2 separate regions of the Homo sapiens genome follow, and region 2 is linked to region 1. The links come from fine-mapping of genetic effects on plasma protein levels. A gene starts in region 1. The other region holds a variant in brackets. All regions are shown on one strand. Distances are between the middles of the regions.

What was found. PIP is the posterior inclusion probability: the model's chance that the variant is causal. Protein levels are from antibody-based Olink assays in UK Biobank. Linkage for the fine-mapping came from a reference panel and not from the study's own genotypes, which makes the PIPs less certain.
Region 2: its variant is fine-mapped to the plasma level of the HSDL2 protein (UK Biobank, PIP above 0.99).

What each region holds. Positions count from the first base shown.
Region 1 is chr9:112,373,902-112,384,042 of GRCh38, forward strand. It overlaps HSDL2 (hydroxysteroid dehydrogenase like 2), which reads left to right and starts at 6,207. Exons shown (of 11, transcript NM_032303.5): 1 at 6,207-6,279. The coding sequence starts at 6,263. It also overlaps a transcript of PTBP3 not described here. RefSeq lists enhancers at 5,391-5,440, 5,541-5,790, 5,790-6,389, 5,821-5,940 and a silencer at 6,161-6,410.
Region 2 is chr9:112,431,877-112,442,017 of GRCh38, forward strand. HSDL2 (hydroxysteroid dehydrogenase like 2) reads left to right here. Exons shown (of 11, transcript NM_032303.5): 7 at 6,555-6,749; 8 at 9,823-9,894. Among named protein-coding and RNA genes, the nearest start is that of KIAA1958, 50 kb to the right of the region's middle. The variant C/T (reference allele first, on the strand shown) is at 5,351.

The DNA of each region.
Region 1 (10,141 bases):
GCTGGTATTGATGACTATCTTCTTCTGCTACCCATTCTGTATTCCCTTTGCCTTCATCAAGCAGCTCAGCAGGTCGTGGTTTTTTTTTCCTGGTGGGGTGACCCAAACTTTCATTTCTGAAGGGTCTGGGCCATTTATAGTCCTGCTTGGATTGGGCTGCTGTAGTTTCCCATCGACCTTAACCACGGGGTATGGTAACACTGAGATGCCCTAATGGATCTCCTGTGAATACTGTGGAGTAGTAGACTGATTTCATCTTGATAATCCGGGTCAATCACACCAGGCAACACTAACTCCCTTCTTAGCCCATTGACTTAAAAGGTAGGAGGAGCACAAAATGTCCAGGTGGCAATCTTAACTTCCCATTTAATGGAATCATTGTTGTGTCTCCTGGTGGCAGCATTCCTCCCTCTGGAACTAAGACCTCTAGGCCATCAGAATGTAATGTCACAGGAACAGGAAGCAAATATTTGCTAGTGGATCATTGGGCGTTACGGTAAGTAGTGCCACTTCCACTTCTACCCCTTGATTCCTGGACCCATGAATCCTGGCTATGGGAGAAACAGTACCATATATTGAACACTGATTCAGAGCATACACAACCTTCTGGAGAACTTTGCCCCAGCCCTGCAAAGTATTGTCACCTAGTTGGTGTTGTAATTGTGACATCAAAAGGCCATTCCACTGTTCTATCAATCCAGCTGCTTCAAGATGATGGGGAACATGGTAAGACCAGTGAATTCCATGAGCATGAGCCCACTGCCACACTTCTTTAGCCATAAAGTAAGTATCTTGTTCAGAGGCAATGCTGTGTGGAATACCACGACAGTGGATAAGGCATTCTGTGAGTCCATGGATGGTAGTCTTGGCAGAAGCATTGTGTACAAGATAGGCAAACCCATATCCAGAGTAAGTGTCTATTCCAGTGAGGACAAACCTCTGCCTTTTCCATGATGGAAGAGGTTCAATATAATCAACCTGCCACCAGGTAGCTGGCTTATCACCATGAGGAACTGTGCCATATTGAGGGCTCAGTGTTGGTCTCTGCTGCTGGCAAATTGGGCACTCAGCAGTGGCTGTAGCCAGGTCAGCCTTGGTGAGTGGAAGTCCCTGTTGCCCATGAATAACCTCCATCCCTGCCACCATGGCCACTTTGTTCACGGGTCCACTGGATGATGACAGGGGTGGTTGGGGAAAGAGGCTGAGTGGTGTCCACAGAACGAGTCATCCTATCCACTTGATTATTAAAATCCTCCTCTGCTAAGGTCACCCGTTGGTTAGCACTTCACAGTTTTTGAGCATTCAGAGAGGTCCATCTACATACCTCTTCCCCAAATTTTATTGTCACCAATTTTCCAATCTTGCTTCTTCCAAGTCCCTGACCATCCAGCCAAATCACTGGCTACCGCCCATGAATTAGTGTATAATCATACATCTGGCCATTTCTCCTTCCATGCAAAGTGCACATCCAGGTGCACTGCTGGAAGTTCTGCCCACTGGGAAGATTTCCCTTTATTGCTGGCCTGCAGGGATGTCCTAGAAAGGGGCTGTAGTGCTGCAGCTGTCCACTTTCAGATGATGCCTGCGTATCATGCAAAACCATCTGTGAACCGGGCCCTAGTCTTCTCTTCCTCTGTCAACTGATCATGTCAACTGATCATGATCATAGGGAACTCCCCATGAGGCCACTGGTGCAGGCTAGGGCAAAGAAGGCAGGGTGGCACGAGCGGAGACCATGAGCATTTGAGCCACTTCCTCATGTAACTTATTCCTCAGGTGCCTTCAGGACCTGCTAGAGCCCAATCATGCATATAACACTTCCACTTGATGATGGAATACTGCTGTGCACGACCCACTTTATGGCTAGATGGGTCAGAAAGCATCCAGTTCATGATAGGCAGTTCAGGTCACATGGTGACTTAATGACCCATAGTCAAACGTTCAGTTTCCACCAAAGCCCAGTAACAGGCTAAGAGCTGTCTCTCAAAAGGAGAGTAGTTATCTGCAGAAGAAGGCAGGGTCTTGCTCCAAAATCCTAGAGGCCTCCACTGTGATTCATTTATGGTGGCCTGGCAAAGGCTCCAAATAGCATCCCTATCTGCCACTCATCCCTCAAGCACTATTGGATCTGCTGGGTCATATGGCCCAAGTGGCAGAACAGCTTGCACAGCAGCCTGGACCTGTTGCAGAGCCTTCTCCTGTTCTGGACCCTACTTCTGGTACCAAAATCCGTATTAGTCAGGGTTCTCTAGAGGATATATATATATATATATATATCCTATTACTTCCTTATATACGTGTGTGTGTGTGTGTGTGTGTGTGTGTGTGTGTGTGTAGGGGAGTTTATTAAGTTTTTTTTTTTTTTTTTTTTGAGAAAGAGTCTCGGTCTGTCACCAGGCTGGAGTGCAGTGGCGTGGTCTCCGCTCACTGCAACCTCCGCCTCCCAGGTTCAAGCGATTCTCCTGCCTTAGCCTCCCGAGTAGCTGGGACTACAGGTGTGTGCTACCACGCCCAGCTACTTTTTGTATTTTTAGTAGAGATGGGGTTTCACCACGTTGGCCAGGATGGTCTCCATCTCTTGACCTTGTGATCCGCCTGCCTCGGCCTCCCAAAGTGCTGGGATTACAGGCATAAGCCACCGCGCCCAGCCTATTAAGTATTAACTCACATGATCACAAGGTCCCATAATAGGCCATCTGCAAGCTGAGGTGCAAGGAGAGCCAGTCCAAGTCCCGAAACTGAACCTGGAGTCTGATGTTGGAGGGCAAGAAGGGGATAAACGCACAGGAGAAGGATGTAGGCTGGGAGGCTAGGCCAGTCTCATCTTTTCAGGTTTTTCTGCCTGTCTTATATTCACTGGCAGCTGATTAGATGGTACCCACTCAGATTAAGGGTGGGTCTGCCCTTCCCAGCCCACTGACTCAAATGTTAATGTCCTTTGGCAATACCCTCACAGATACACCCAAGACCAATACTTTGCATCCTTCAATACCATCAAGTTGACACTCAGTATTAACCATCACAAGCCCTATGAAATAAAAAGTTTTATGACCCCTTTCTTCCCAGAATTATGAATGCCAATTTACTTGCTCTACATTTACGCAACTTCCATGACCTGGGGTAGGTAGGTATGCAATGTTGTGTTACTTCCCCATTGTCCATATCCACTTGTGTCCCTGGCCATGGCCAACTAATTTACAGGTTGAAACATTTCCCAGCACCTTGGAAGGCTGTGTGGTGGGAGGATTGCTTGAGGTGAGGAGTTCAAGACCAACCTGGGCAACATAGTGAGACCCCTGTGTCTATAAAAAGTAAAATTAGCCAGGTGTGGTGGCACATGCCCGTGGTCCTGGCTACTTGGGTGGCTGAGCCCAGGAGGTTGAGGCTACAGTGAGCCATGATCATGCTGCTACACTCCAGCCTGGGTGACAGAGCAAGATCTTATCTCAAAAAAACAAAACAAAACGAAACACATTGTACTAGACTGTCTTAGTATTTGAAGCTTGAACAGATACACAGAAAAGACAGGGAAGCCACCTACAATGCATTCTAGAAAGATCATGCTGCTGAGGATCATGGAAGCACCTTAGTTCCCATTGTCAAGCTTAGTTGTTCAGCTCTTCCTTAAGTTATATAAACTATCCCAGAATTCTTCTAAATTCTCCAACCCCTTTAATTTGGTTTAAATTAGCCAAATTACATTAATGTTGCATATAACCAAAACTTAAGGGATATAAATTGGTTGGGAGAATGTGTTGTAACCAGTAGTCTGTCAGGAAACTGTTGCATTTTTAGGTAGTTTTATCAAGCTGAGAAGGGGTGAAATGAGTGAGACTTACCTGACTTTCAAGACATCTATTTTTCAAACCATTTGTTTTCACTTCTTTACTGTGTTATCACCATCCTCCCAGGACTTTACACCAGAAATCTGAAGGTCACCACTGATACCATCTTCCCCCTTTGCTCCTACATCTAATCATTAGTTACATCTGCCAGGTTCCATATCTTGAGTATGTCTTTTCATTTCTACTATTACTGCCTTAGTTCAGGTTACTACTTTTCTTACACATTACATTACTATGGGCTTTTAAATGGCTTCTGTGCCTTTATCTACTCACAAACTATTCTTCATGCTGCAGTCAGAAGTGTTCTAAGCCAAAATTATTCACCTTCCAAAATGAAGATCTAATTATGTTCACAAGTCCTCTCCTTCACCCATTCCTCACCTCTAGCATTAATCTAACACTAGGTTAATCAAGGTAATGGGGTAGAAGGTCATGGGTAACTCCAAATCACACTTTAAATGAACTCTAGTCAAAGTACTGAATACAATGGATTTAAACTTGCTTGGTAAAACTACCTCTAATAATTTAGGAATATATTTGCCTTCTGTGAAAGCCATCGCAAAGTATAAAAATAGTGTAAGTACAGGTATTTAGGCTCACAAAATATCGTTATGACTGAAAAATTGGCAAAGGTTTTTTGTTTGCTTTGCCTCTTCGTTGAGCTCTCTTTCCGTAACAAATGGAAATAGAAGCACACAAATTCAAGAAAGGAGGCTCTAACAGACTGAAGATATTGTGGCTTTCAAAAAGGAGAGAACATTTTAGATGATATGAAGGAAATGTCACCCCGTTACTAAGAATTCACTCTATTCGACAGATATATACACGCTTCAGCAAGTGCTCCTAAGGATGAGAGGAGAGTAAGTTATTTTCATCTAACAGTCTCTATCAACACTCTTCTTAAAACACCTAATGCTTAACAACAGTCTAAAGAACACACTGGCTACTCATACCTCCCATAGGCAGAGACCTTGTCCTTTTTGAGCTGCTGTATCTCAGGTAATCAGCAATCACTTAGTGGATGATAATAATTTGCAAATTCCTCTGGAGCCTCTAAAGACCGTATCATGAATCATCAATTCAAATGCCTACAGGAGTCGGGCAGGTGATATGCAGGAGGAAATAGAGTCATTTAGGGCCCATAACAAAGGGGAGAGAGGCCGGGCGCGGAGGCTCACGCCTGTAATCCCAGCACTTTGGAAGGCCGAGGCGGGCCAATCATTTGAGGTCAGGAGCTCGAGACCAGCCAGCCCAACATGGCGAAACCCCGTCTCTACTAAAAACACAAAAAAATTAGCCAGGCGTGGTGATGCATGCCTGTAGTCCCAGCTACTCCGGAGGCTGAGGGAGGAGAATCACTTGAACCCGGGAGGCGGAGGTTACAATGAGCCGAGATCCGCGCCACTGCACTTCAGCGTGGGCGACAGCGAGACTCCGTCTCAAAAAACAAAACAAAAACAAAGGAGAGAGTACATAAGCCATCTCCAGGCTAGTTTCTTTAACTAGTCTTCATATAATAATCTCCTCAAGGTCCTGTTCTATCCCTACAAAATACAAAACAGTTCCTCGTGTCTTCCTTCAAATATACTACAGTCTTTAGCTCATCAGAGTAGCTGAGTTAGTCCAAGGCATAATCCCAAAAGCGAAACTGAATGTCAGAATTGATCTCATTTCAACACTCATTCCAGAAGTAGAAACTTCTGCAAGTTCAGCTTTTGACTATGAATTCTTCAGCGCGACTTTTGCAGAGAGCTCTGTTCCAAGAAGCTGGCGCCTTAACACAAGCTATCTACCGATGCACAAGGGAAGGCTGGCTTGGGTCCAGATTCGGCGGGAGAGTGGAAACGCGACGCTGGCCGACTTCAGCCACAAAGGCAATTTCTGCCCAGGGCTAGCGTTCCTAAGAGGGGGCCGAGAGAACGCCAGGCTCGGGCGTAGGGGCAAGAAGACCCAGAGCTAACGCACCTCTCGGAGGGCCCAAGCTCAGGGCTCAGTCACCCTCCCAGCTCGGAGCCGGCGCTGGAACACAGCGGCGCGAGGAGAAACCCCTAGAGACAGGGAAAAGGTGGACGTAGCGGCTGACGCTGCCCAGACGCTAGGCGCCGACAGGAGCCTGATTGTCACCGTACGACCAGTGAGGGGGCGGGGCGGAGCTGTGCCTCAAAGCGCCTGCGCGGAGAGCCTGCAATCAGGGACCAGGCTTGGGAGGCGACGAAGAGGAACGCTGGGCGCAGGAGGCCCACTGCATACGCAGGCGCACTCGGCGATCCCGGCTTTTCCGCGCGCAGTTCCCGCACAGGCATCGGGGGGGGCAGGGGCGGGGCAGGGGCGGGGATAAATGCGGAGGGACGGTCCAGCTTTAGCTCTCTGCTCGCCGCCGCCGCTGTCGCCGCCACCTCCTCTGATCTACGAAAGTCATGTTACCCAACACCGGGTAAGGGGGTAGGGGCGGCGCGGGGAGAGACCCTGTCGGGCGAAGGGCGCGTCTCGGTGGGGCCGCCGCGGATCGCCCGGGCTGGCCGGCCCGGCTGTGGGAGGTCAAGGATACTGCCTGGGCACGCTCTGAGCTCTGGTCCGCGCTGGGCACTGTGCACCGAGAATCTGCGGTAACGTGTGAAAAGGAACACAAACTTTTGTATTACAGGATGGCAGCAGTGTAGAAACCTTTTCCACGGGTAAAGGGCCGAGGGGGAGTCACCACGCCGCCCCCAGTGCCGGCCCTCCCTGAGTTTAGCAGGAGTGCGTGCCTGGCCGAATGCGTGTGAGTTCTAGGTGAAAGGTCGCAGGAGCAGCTCCAGAGTTTAAAGAGTTTTCACTTGTTCCTGACGCTCAATTCTAGAGTAATAATGGAGTGTTTAAAAAATGATTTCCAAATTAGAAACTAAACCGATCTTAAAACATGGGTATCTTTGGGGGATTTTTTTTTCACCTTAAAAAATTGTGTTAAAATACGTACAAAATCTGCCATCTTAACCGTTTTTTAAGTGTACACTTCAGTAGTGTTAAGTAGATTCATATCGTTGTGCAGTCAATCTCCAGAACTTTTTTCATCTGCAAGCTGAAACTCTATCCATGAAACAACTCCTCTTCCCCACCTCCGCTCGTACATTGGCAACCACCATTCTACTTTCTGGTTTATGTAAGGTCTGGGTATCTTGAGTTGAGTGACGTGTTGTCAGATTTTGTAATTTGCCTGAAACATGCAGGCATATAGCCAAAGACTTAAAACAGTTCAAAGAGTATAGGGTAAAAAGTGAGTCTCCCCATCCCTAAAATCTAGTTCCCCAGTTACTTACGTTTCTATTTCGTGCATGTATGAACATAATTTGTATACATCCGGATACACACACACACACACACACACACACACATACCCTTTCTTAAAAATAGCAGCAGACTCTATTCTTGGTCTTGCTACTTTTAGTTGGTATGTCTTGGGACATTCTTTCTTTGTTTTTTTTAAAGACGGGGTCTCCCATGTTGCCCAGACTGGCCTGTAGCCTTGAACTCCCAGGCTGATGTTCCTCCCTTCTTAGCCTCTGGAGTATTTAGGATTACAGGCATGCACCGCTGTGCCCAGGGACATACATTTTTAGTACATGGCAGATCTTCCGCCTCCTTTTTTTTTCTTTTGAGATGGAGTCTCGCTCTGTCTTCCAGTCTGGAGTGCAGTGGCATGATCTCGGCTCACTGCAGCCTCCGCCTCCCGCAATTCTCCTGCCTCAGCCTCCCGAGTAGCTGGGACTTCAGGCGCGTGCCACCACGCCCTGTTGATTTTTTTGTATTTTTAGTACAGACGGGGTTTCACCATGTTAGCCAGGATGGTCTCAATCTCATGACCTCGTGATCCGTCTGCCTCGGCCTCCCAAAGTGCTGGGATTACAGGCGTAAGCCACTGCGCCTGGCCCCTCCTCCTTTTTAATGGTTGCATAATATTCTGTAACAGCTTGAGTATCCATTATCCAAAATGCTTGGTTCCAGACGTGTTCGGATTTCAGATTTTCAGATTTGGTTTGCTCAACCTGTATATGAATATACCTTTGTTTATTTAACCTGTTCCCTATTGTTGGATACTAGACTGTTTCCAGTTTTTTGGATACTCTTTTTTTGCTTCCATAATTATACTTGTATTTATCTATTTGCACATATATAAGTGTATATGTAGGATAAACTCCTGGAAGTGAAATTGCTGGATCAAAGAGTAAATGTGGCTGGGCACAGTGGCTCACGCCTGTAGTCCCAGCACTTTGGGAGGCCGAGGCGGGCGGATCACTGGAGGTCAAGAGTTCGAGACCAGCCTGGCCAACGTGGTGAAACTCCGTCTCCACTAAAACTACAAAATTACAAAAATTACAAATACAAAAATTAGCTGGACCTGGTAGCGGGCACCTGTAATCCCAGCTACTCAGGAGGCTGAGGCAGGAGAACCGCTTGAACCTGGAGGCGGAGGTGGCAGTGAGCCGAGATCATGCCACTGCCCTGCCCTCCACCCTGCGAGAGAGAGTGAGAGTCTGTCTCAAAAAGAAAAAAGAGGAAATGCACTTTATATTTTGACAGATATTTCCAGATGACCCCCCAGAAGGGTTGCACACCCAAAAGGATAAATGAGATCCTCTAATCCCACTTGTTGGCTAACCGCAAAATAGTTAATGATGAAAATCTAATTAGAGAAAAAAGTGTCACCTCATTATTGTTAAAATTTGCATTTATTTTATCACAAGTGTGGATTTGGATCTCTTTGTGTATTTAAACCAGGGACAATTTGATCCCCAGAGGACATTTGGTAATATCTCAAGACATTTTTGATAGTCACAATTGAATGGAGATGCTAATGGCATCTCGTGAGTAGAGTACAGGGATGCTGGTGCACATCCTACAATTCACAAGCATTCCGTACAACAAAGAATTATGTAGTCCAAAAGGTCAGTAGTGCAGAGGTTGAGAAACCCTGGTTTAAAGCCATCTATGTATCTTTATATTTGTCTGGCTTAACAAATGAGGTTTTTCGTTAATCTCTGAGGGCTCTGTGTATTTTAAAAATTTGTCTTTTATCACATTACAAATATTTTCCACAGTTTTTCATGTTGCATCTGGACTTTGATTATACTGTTTATTTAACATGGAGAAACATGTTTTTGTGAAGCCAGAGTTATCAGTCTCTTAAGGCTTTTGCATTTTTGAGTTAAACCAAGATCTTTTTTTTTTTTTTTGAGATGGAGTCTTGCTCTGTAAGCCTTTGAGTTAAACCGAGATCTTTCTTTCTGTCTTTCTTTTTTTTGAGATGGAATCTTGCTCTGTATGCCTTTGAGTTAAACCGAGATCTTTCTTTCTGTCTTTCTTTTTTTGAGATGGAATCTTGCTCTGTTGCCCAGGCTTGAGTGCAGTGGTGCGATCTCGTTTCACTGCAACCTCTGCCTCCCAGGTTTAAGTGGTTCTCCTGCCTTAGCCTCACAAGTAGCTGGGATTACAGGCGCACACCACCATGCCGGCTAATTTTTGTAATTTTAGTAGAGATGGAGTTTCACCATGTTGGCCAGGCTGGTCTCAAACTCCTGACCTCAAGTAATCCTCCTGACTCGGCATCCCAACATGCTGGGATTACAGGTGTGAGCCACCGTGCCTGGGCAGATCTTTTTATAATTAGTTTTCTTCTGATATTTTTATGGTCTTATATTTTTGTATTTTTCAAATATATTTGTATTGTCTATATTTTTTATAGTCAGATTTTTTTATCCCCCTGAGATTTCTTTCAGGAAGTGAGTTAGGAAGCCCACTTGATTTTTCTTCAGATGGCTGCTCATTTGTCCTAGCAGCATTGACCTAAGAGTTAATCTTTTCTCTTCTGCTCGAAATTCTACCTCTGTTGTATATTAAATTCTTGCACATATAGCGCTCTGTTTCTGGACTTTCTGCTCTGCTACTTTAGTCTCTATTCATGTACCAGTACCAGACTGTTTACTTAATTAATTAATTGAGACAGGGCCTCGCTCTGTCACCCAGGCTGGGGTGCATTGGCACCATCATAGTTCACTGCAGCCTTGATCTCCTGGGGTTAAGCAGTCCTCCCAGCTCATCTTCCCAATTAGGTGGGACTATAGACATGCGCCATAATGCCTGGCTATTTTTAAAAAATTTTTTTGTAGAGGAGTCTCACTTTGTTGCCCAGGCTGGTCTCAAACTCCTGGGCTCAAGTGATCCTCCTGCCTCAGCCCCCGAAGTGCTAGGATTACAGATGTGAGCCACTCTACCCAGCCCAAACTATTTTAATTGCTCTAGTTTTACAAAATGTTTTAATA
Region 2 (10,141 bases), 58 kb after region 1:
TTTTTTTTTTTTTTTTGAGACGGAGTCTTGCTCTGTTGCCCAGGCTGGACTGGAGTGCAGTGGTGCGATCTCAGCTCACTGCAACCTCCGCCTCCCAGGTTCAAGCGATTCTCCTGCCTCAGCCTCTTGAGTAGCTGGGATTACAGGCGTGCGCCACCACACCTGGCTAATTTTTTTGTATTATTAGTAGTGACGGGGTTTCACCATGTTGACCAGTCTGGTCTTGAACTCCTGACCTCAGGTGATCCACCCACCTAGGCCTCCCAAAGTGCTGGGATTACAGGTGTGAGCCACTGTGCCGAGCCTAGGTATTTCTTTATAGTAATGCGAGAACAGACTAATACAGGGAGTGATCAATTGTGTCAGATTATGCTGATAGTTCTTACAAAATGGGACTGATCGTCAGGTTTAGTAGTCTGTACATCCCCTTCACATCACTTACACCGTTTGTAATTATTAATTTATAATTATGGTTGTTCAGTGTCTTCTTTGCTAGAATGAAAACTTCTTGAGGATAGGGACAGTGTTTGCTTTGTTTGTTTTATTATAGTCATTGTAGACATTCAATAAATATTTGATGAGTGAGTAAATGAGTGAATGAATGTGCAATATGATTACCTTCTGCCTAGCTCCAAAATATATTCTGGACAAAGCTTATATAATAGGCAGAATGTTCTGTATCAGGGAATATAGAGGGCATTATCTGGTCCAGCAGGAAAAATCAGCTCATTGCTGAGATCTTTGCTTTAGCTTCAAGATATTCATTTTAGAAGGTTTACTAGACATCTTGGAGCCAGTGATGTTATTTGGTCCTAGACTTGATGACACACTAAATCCAATTTACAGTCATGTTCCTTGTGGTGCATGGTATGATGAATTATGTACTGGATGTTGTGTTTTGTTTTTGTTTTTTGAGACAGAATCTCTGTCACCCAGGCTGGAATGCAGTGGCGCCATCTCGGCTCACTGAAACCTGTGCCTCCTGAGTTCAAGTGATTATCCTGCCTCAGCCTCCTGAGTAGCTGGGACTACAGGCATGCACCACCACACCTGGCTAATTTTTGTATTTTTTTTTTTAGTAGAGACAGGGGTTTCACCACATTGGCGAGGGTGCTCTAGAACTCCTGACCTCAAGTGATCCACCCACCTCAGCCTCCCAAAGTGCTGGGATTACAGGTGTGATCCACCGTGCCTGGCCTACAGGGTGCTTTTGAGACATAGTAGCTCAGGATAAAGGATCAGAGCAGTAGATTTTCAAAAGTAGGTAAACAATTGAAATGAGATCTCAAGGGGATGTTGGAATTTTTCAAAAAGGAGAACTGGGAAAGACATTTCTTGGCAGAGGGAGCGACGCATGCAAAGATTGCAGTTTGGGAAAATACTTTCTGTGCGGTGGAACTACAAGGTTGGTGTATGTATGATAGGGTGTGGGCTTGTTATTTCCCACTGAACTTGAGCAACTCAAGTTGTACAGGTTGACTGGAATGTTGGGTGAGTTTGAGAGTGTGGGGAAGATGGATGAGATGGATGGTCTTGTCTGCCAAGTTTAGGAGCTTGAATTTTAACCTATATTCAGTGGAGAGCCACTGAAGAATCTTAGAAGCAGAGGATTAATAATAAACTGGGGAAAATAGGAGCAGTGAAGTAATATGGTTGCTGATGAGGTTTAGGAAGTTTAATCTGGCATCTGAATATGGGATGGCTTGTAAGACTGTAGAGAGAAGAGGCAGGAAAGCTAGCTAGAATATTACATTATTCATGAGTGAGGCAATGAAAATGGAGGAGTGAAAATGGATTTGAGAGGGTGTTCAGGCTCTTGGCTGTTTGAGAGGCCTCTATTTAAAAGAAAACACTCATCTCCTCATCTTAGACGACAGCGTAGAGTGACTCTCTTTATGTCAGCTGGAACCAGAAGTAATCTCCCAACATTATTGCCTTTCAAGAAAAAGGAGATTTATTGTGCTTAACGGAGTGGGTACAGTGTAACATACATTATCCTCAATCAGAGCAGTGTCCCGGTCTCCCACTTGGCTTCTCAGCTGCATGTTCTTCTCAACACTGACTTCATTGCTCCTCCTGGTTTTAGCACTTCCACCCTGCTGAATTCAGCACATCCAGAGAAAGGATCAGAGGGCCGGCCTCTAGTTGTTTCACAACATGGAATTTCAGGCTTCCAACTAGGTCACCTCCAGAATTGTAATTTTTTTCTTTTTATAAGACCTGTTTCATGGTTCTTGCTGAAATGGAGGGTGGGGAAGGGGAGAGGGATGATGGCTGCTATTCACAATGCCTACTCTTACCTCATGACTGGTCTGGGCAAGTATGGTAGAAGCAGGAAAGTCCACTTTTGGGTGGATTTGATTTGGGCTTGGGGTGGGGAGTCTGGGAATGGCAGCTACTGATTTGGTAATGGCTACAGAGAGGAAGGCAGTAGAAGTACCACAGAGCAGCTGCAGACTTCTGTCACCTGGACTATATTACAAATAGATTTGGGAACTCAGCTAACCAGGGAGGGTGAGGCGACAAGGTGGCAGCTCACCTCCTTCCTGTCTGGTGCTAGAAATCAAAACCTGTTCACTAACTAGGTTAAACAGTTTATACCATTTTCATTGATTCTGACATGCCCATGCTTTATATTTGTACATCTCTGATCTCAGTCTGTATCTTACAATGGATGATATATCATAGTTTAATTGGCAGCTTTTTTCTTTCTTTAGTGGTCCCTAAGGTAATGGTGCGCTGTATAATCAGTGGTATCATTGGTTCAGTGGATACACACATGAGTGTGTGGATATGTTTGGTGGTGGCTGACAGGTGTCAAAGAGGGGAAACAAGCTCTCTTCCCAGAGAAGGAGTCATCACAGGCAATGCTGATATTTTAAGCCTCATACACACTTCATATGTTTATGTGAAAGGAAATCTTTGGTCTTAAGACTGTTGGTACTGTCTGTTTTCAGGCAGTAATCTCTTAGCTGTTATCAGGAGAATCAATTGGAAGCTATTAGATGTCTCTTCAGTTATTTCTTAATAAGACTTAAGTTTTCAGGTCGATGTTGTTGACTCTTGTGATCCATGGCTTATCTGCTTTCATTATAAATTTTGCTTATTTTCTTTCCCAGAAATCATCAGTGAATTTCATTTGATTGATCCTACTGTTAACCTGCTTTTATTGTTACCAGTTTTTTCTAACCTATTGGGTTAGCTTGTTGGCATTGCAAAATCTGTGTTGAGAAATACTCAATGGCCCACTCCTTGAGTTTTGAGTGCCTAGTTGTACCTTCTTTGTATCTTTCCTAGAAAGATTGTTAAAGTAATGATAGGTTGGAGGAACATTTCTTATTCTATAGACACTCACACACACACACACAGCATGTATATACTTATACATGACATATTTTATTAGACTTCTAATTTAGAGTTTTTAAGGATTCTTGTACAATTCATGTAGTTTACATGGAGACTAGCAGTGTGCATGTATGCATATAGTCTCAAAATAGATTATACTCAATTATGTACAGAAAAGTTCTGCAGTTTTCGGGAGTGAGATGATAACTGAACTCCAAGAACTTTGGTTAACAAGGTTAACCATTTAGTTGCATTAAGGATGAGAGCCTGGCTCTGAAGTCAGGCTGCTGGGTGTTTGAATTTTAGCTTCTGTGACCTTGGGCAAGTTACTTAACTTCTCTGTGCTTCACTGCTCCTATTTATAAAATGGGAATAACAACAGGACCTACCTCAGGGTTCTAAGAATTAGGTAAGATAATGTATGTAAAATAGGTAACAGCATGCCTGGCACAGGGTACACTTAATGAATGGTAGGTGCTATTTTTTATTTTATTTTATTCATTTTTAATTTTTCTGTTTTTTTGACAAACAAATAGGGTCTCACTCTGTCACCCAGGCTAGAATGCAATGGCACAGTCATAGCTCACTGCAGCCTCAAATTCCTAGGCTCAAGCAATCTTCCTGCCTCAGCCTCCAGAATATCTGGGATTATAGGCTCTAGCCACAACATTCAGCTGCTATTTTTTTTTTATTATTAATAAAGGATCAGTTCAAGAGTGAGACCAGAGCTCTTGCTCTTGATCTGTTGGTTAAGGAAAAAATTATTTCTAGGGCTGGACACGGTGGCTCACACCTGTAATCCCAGCACTTTGGAAGGCCAAGGCAGGAGGACGGCTTGAGCCCACGAGTTGGAGACCAGCCTGGGAAACATAGCAGGACCCCATTTCTACCAAAAAAAAAAGCTGGATATGGTGGGAGGGTGAGGTAGGAGGATCGTTTGAGAGCCCAGGAGATCAAGGCTGCAGAGAGCCATGATCTCACCACTGCCTTTGGCCTGGGTGACAGTGTGAGACCCTATCTCAAAAAAAAAAAAAAAAAAAAAAAAATTATTCCTAGTAAATGATTTTTAGTTATGAAGTAGAAAAGTGTCTTCTAACTCAGTGCTTTCAAGAAATTCCCTAAATTAATTGAACATTAAACAAAATAGGGATGTAAGTTCCATGAAGGTAGATGCCTTATGTCTGTTTTGTCAACATCTGTGTCCTTAATATCTAGAATAGCGCCTGACTTACATATAGTAAGTGCTTAATAACTATTTGTTAAATGAATGAAAAAGGGCCAATGGCTCTTAAAAGCTACAGACATTTCATCTTATAGATGAAAATATGTAAGTTATTCTAGTATGTAATAATTTAAAATTGTATTTTAACAATATATGGAAATAAGCTTTAACTAAAATACTAGAAACTCACAAACCTAAGTACATTTAAATAAGTTGACTTTCTGTGAACCTATGAATTATGTTGGAAAGTAAATAAATAAATAAATAGACTTTTCTTGTTTGATGTAAACTAGGATATATGTAAGAAAATTGAGATGTTACTGTTGACAATGTGTAATTAATAATGTACTGTTAATTGTAGAGTTTAAAGTTACTTCACATAAGAGACATAATTTTAAAAGTACACCTAACATGGTAAAAATTTTATGCAAACATTAACAGCAGTTATCCCTGGATAGGGAAATTATAATTAATTAAGCAATTTTTTCCTTTTACTTCTCTTTCTTTTCTTTTTTTCTTTTTTTTTTTTTTTTTGAGACGGAGTCTCGCTCTGTCACCCAGGCTGGAGAACAGTGGAGTAATCTCAGCTCATTGCAACCTCTGCCTCCCAGGTTCAAGCAATTCTCCTACCTCTGCCTCCCAAGTAGCTGGGACTACAGGCGCTCGCCACCATGCTTGGCTAATTTTTGTATTTTTAGTAGAGATGGGGTTTCACCATGTTGACCAGGCTTGTCCCAAACTCCTGACCTCAAGTGATCCACCCACCTCGGCCTCCCACAGTGC[C/T]GGGATTACAGGCGTGAGCCACCGCACCTAGCTATTTTCTAATATTTTCTACAAAACAGTGTTGTGTGAATTTAAAAAGGACCCCCAGAAATCCAACCAATATTTATTGAGTGTTTTTCAAGGAACCTATTCACTGACTAGGTGAAAGAGTTTATACTACTTTCATTGATTCTGAGATGCCCATGCTTTATATTTGTACATCTCAGATACCAGTCTGTTTCTTACAATAGATGATATATCATAATTTAATTGGCAGCTTTTTTGTTTCCTTAGTGGTCCCTAAAGTAATGGTGCACTGTATAATCAGTGGTATTGTTGGTTCAGTGAATACCCACAAGAATGTGTGCATGTGTTTGGTGGTGGCTGACAGGTGTTAAAGAGGCGAAACAAGCTCTCTTCCCAGAGAAGGAGTCATCACAGGCAATGCTGATGTTTTAAGCCTCATACGCACTCCATATGTTTATGTGAAAGGAAATCTTTGGCATTAAGACTGTTGGTACTGTCTGTTTTCAGGCAGTAATCTCTTAGCTGTTATCAGGAGAATCAATTGGAAGCTATTAGAGGTCTCTTCAGTTATTCCTTAAACAGGCATGCAAATTCTTGAGCATTCTAAATCAGAAAGTTCATTGAATTTTACTTTGAGTCTTATGGTTTGGTCTGTAGTATAAGGCAGTGTTGCAGGGTAAGGAACATGTGTTTTCCACCCAGTTCTCTCCGTAGAACATTTGGTAAATCCTGGGGCCAGGCGTGGTGGCTCATGCCTGTAATCCCAGCACTTTGGGAGGCTGAGGCGGACGGATCACAAGGTCAGGAGTTCGAGACCAGCCAACATGGTGAAACCCCGTTTCTATTAAAAATACAAAAAAATTGCCAGCAGTGGTGGCGCACGCCTGTAATCCCAGCTACTCAGAAGGCTGGGTTCAATCACTTGAACCCAGGAGGCAGAGGTTGCGGTGAGCGGAGATCACGCCATTGCACCCCAGCCTGGGTGACAGTGCAAGACTGTCTCAAAAACAAAAATAAAAACAAAAAAACAAAAAAAATTTGGCAAATCCCTTAAGCAATCTGGACTTTGTTTTCATCAGCTAAGAAATGAAAGGATTAGCCTTGATAATTGTGAAGGGTGGTGCTTGCTTGTTACTTCCATAGTTTTATTATTTGATTTGGAGTTATGAGTGTATGTGTGTGTGTGTTTTCTCTACAGCCATACACACTGCTGCTATGGATATGCTGGGAGGACCTGGTATCGAAAGCCAGTGTAGAAAAGTTGATATCATTGCAGATGCAGCATATTCCATTTTCCAAAAGCCAAAAAGTTTTACTGGCAACTTTGTCATTGATGAAAATATCTTAAAAGAAGAAGGAATAGAAAATTTTGACGTTTATGCAATTAAACCAGGTAATGCTTTTATAGTTTTTAAAAGTAGTGATACGTTTTTCCATATTTTCTGCAATGAACATATCTGTTTTTTGTGTGTGTTTGTGTGATTGTAAAATGAATGTGTTCTTTTAAAAGCTGTCTTCCCAATGAAGGAAGAAAACCCATACCAACACAACTTAAAAAAAAAGATGAATGAAAAATAGAGGTGAGTTGAGGGCTTTTGAAGTGATATATATATATATATATATAAGCACAGAAAGTCAGATCAGTTACTAGCCACTTCTAAATCTCGAAATAAGAAATGAAAATTATTTTTTAAAGTTGGTCTTAAAATCACAGAGTAAAGATTTTGTTCAAGAATATGTGGTAACAGATGGTACAGTAGTGGGTTATGTATTTATTTATTTATTTGAGAAAGGGTCTCACTCTGTCACCCAGGTTGGAGTGTAGTGGCGCAATCTCAGCTCACTGCAACCTCTACCTCCCAGGCTCAAGCAATCCTTCCACCTCAGCCTCTAGAGTAGCTGGGACTATAGGCATGTGCCACCACACCTGGTTAATTTTTGTATTTGTAGATGTGGGGTTTCACCATGTTGCCCAGGCTGGTCTTGAACTCCTGAGCTCAAGTGATCTGCCTGCCTTGGCCTCCTAAAGTGTTAGGATTACAGGCGTGAGCCACTGCACCTGGCACAGTAATGAATTTTTTTGTTTAAAATAATTTATGATTGTGGACTCTCTAAATATTTGTCTCTTAAGCGCAGTCTCTTAGAGTAGCTTAATGACAGATGGTGTAGATGAGTGGGCAGGCTCTGTCTCATGGACAGTAAAGTGATCTGAGAAGCTTCTAGAAAGCCCTCTTGTTAAGTAACTCTCCCTCTCTGAAATTGGGGATGATAATGATAATAATGGATTTTTACCATATAGAATATGATGTATTCTAATATAGCCATACATAGGAGTTATATTTATTTGCGCTAAAGTATATTTTAAATATTATTCATTAAACTGAGCTTCTAAATGACACAAACCACGTTTATATTTGTATCATCCCTGCTCATCTCTGCAGTTCAAACTAAAGTAAATAGCGGATTATAGTTTTACAAAGCACTCTTATATGCATTATCTATTTAGCCTGCATAACAATTCTGTACGGAAAGTAATGCTTAGTGATTAAGAACACGAAATTTGGGAGAAGACAACCCAGCTTCATATTGCAGCTCTGCTGCTCACTGCTATGCAGCTTTGAGCATGTCACCCAGTTTGTCTGTCTCAGCCTCAATTTCCATATTGGTAAACTTAAGAGAATGATACATTTCATACAAGATTTTTGTAAAGGCTAAATGTGATAATGTATAATGTGTTTGGCACAGTGCCCAGCATATAGTACACTCAGAATATTTAGTAGTTAATATTTACAAGTGGAAAAACAGGCTCAGAGAGATTGAGCCTTTGCCTAAGAGCAGATGGCTAATAGGTGGCAGAACCTGACCAGATTCAGGTCTTCCGGGTCCTGGTACCCAGGAATATAATTATTACCTTAGGTTTTAAAGACACAGTGTAATTGTGCGCAAGTTTTAAAATTTTATTTAAATTAAAAATCCTATTAAGTATTGAGAACTTAAAATGACCAGATACTATGATATTAGGATATAACAAAGATGAATTCATTCCTGCCCTCCAGAAGTTTGCTTAAACTTCTGAAAAAGAGAGAGAGAGAGGCAGGAGACCGAGGCAGGAGGCTCATTTGAGCCCAGAAGTTTGAGACCAGCCTGGGCAAAACAGCAAGACCCCATGTCAAAAAAAAAAAGAGAGAAAAGAAAAAGAGAACAATTGAGATTGTTAACATCTCACTGTACTACAGTTTTGAAGGCTTTGTGGCCTTTAAATCTTCTAGTGTGCACATGTCTTGGAGTTATCAGTGTAATTAAAACAGTTAACCTATTTGCTAACCACAACCATTAGCTGAAAATAAGACCCAGTGGAGGCTGTGTGCAGTGGCTCACACCTGTAATCCCAGCACTTTGGGAGGCCAAGGCCAGTGGATCGCTTGAGCCAAGGAGTTCAAGACCATACTGGGCAACATGGCAAAACCCCATCTCTACAAAAAATAAAAATGAGTGTTCAGGCACGGTGGCTCACGCCCATAATCCCAGCACATTGGGAGGCTGAGGTGGGTGGATATCCTAGGTCAGGAGTTTGAGACCAGCCTGACCAATATGGTGAAACTCTATCTCTACTAAAAATATGAAAAGTAGCCAGGCATAGTGATGGGCACCTGTAATCCCAGCTACTTGGGAGGCTGAAGCAGGAGGATTGCTTGAACCTGGGAGGCAGAGGGTGCCATGAGCTGAGATCGTGCCACTGCACTCAAGCCTGGGTGACAGAGCGAGACTCCGTCTCAAAAAATAAATAAATAAATAAATAATAAATAAATAAATAAAAATTAGCTGGATATGGTGGCTTGCACCTGTGGTCCCTGTTACTTGGGAGGCTGAGGGAGGAGGATCACTTGAGCCCAGGAGGTGGAGGTTGCAGTGAGCCAAGATCATATCACTGCACTCCAGCCTGGGTGACAGTGAGACCCTGTGTCAATAATAATAATAATAACCCAGTGGAATAGGATGGAATAGGATAGCTTAGTGTTCATGATGATGGAGTGAGAGGAAGAGGGAAAGAGAGAAGAGACCCAAGTGCACTAATGCTGAGAAGAAAGTCCTTCTTAAGAAGGGGCCCTCTGCTTTTAGGACGGCAGGTAAGAAATAAGTCCTGACAACTTCGGAAGAATGTGGGCCAGAAGAGCAGTGTAGGATGAGAAGGGCAGAGGTTCCTGGGAGAGCAGGTAAAGGCTTTACAGAACAGGTGATCTTTTGGGGATTAAATCTTGAAGATAAAATTTATCAGAGGAGAGAAAGATAACTGAATTATGAGAAAATTAATTTAATGAAGATCAGGTCATTCGACAGTTCTCACAGAGGCCTTTTCTTTTGCACCAGAAAGATTTTTAATAAAATAGATATGTTTATTAAACAGATGTTAAAATCTTACTATGTTGTAGTTACATTAACCTAATGGTTTGGGGTCAATTTTTCAGGTCATCCTTTGCAACCAGATTTCTTCTTAGATGAATACCCAGAAGCAGTTAGCAAGAAAGTGGAATCAACTGGTAAGATCTAGACTATATTTTATGTTAGAAAATATAAATCCTAACTTATGTATTTCTTCCAAAATATGGAATTGATCCTATAACAGTGACATTTCTGCCTTCTGTTTTTAAACTGTTTTGTACTTTAAACTAAACAAGTAATGTGAGATCTCAGTTAATTCTAGTAAAGAAGGTTGTTTTGTTCATCTACCAGTAAGAAGTTTTAATAAGGCTGGGCACAGTGGCTCATACCTGTAATCCCAGCACT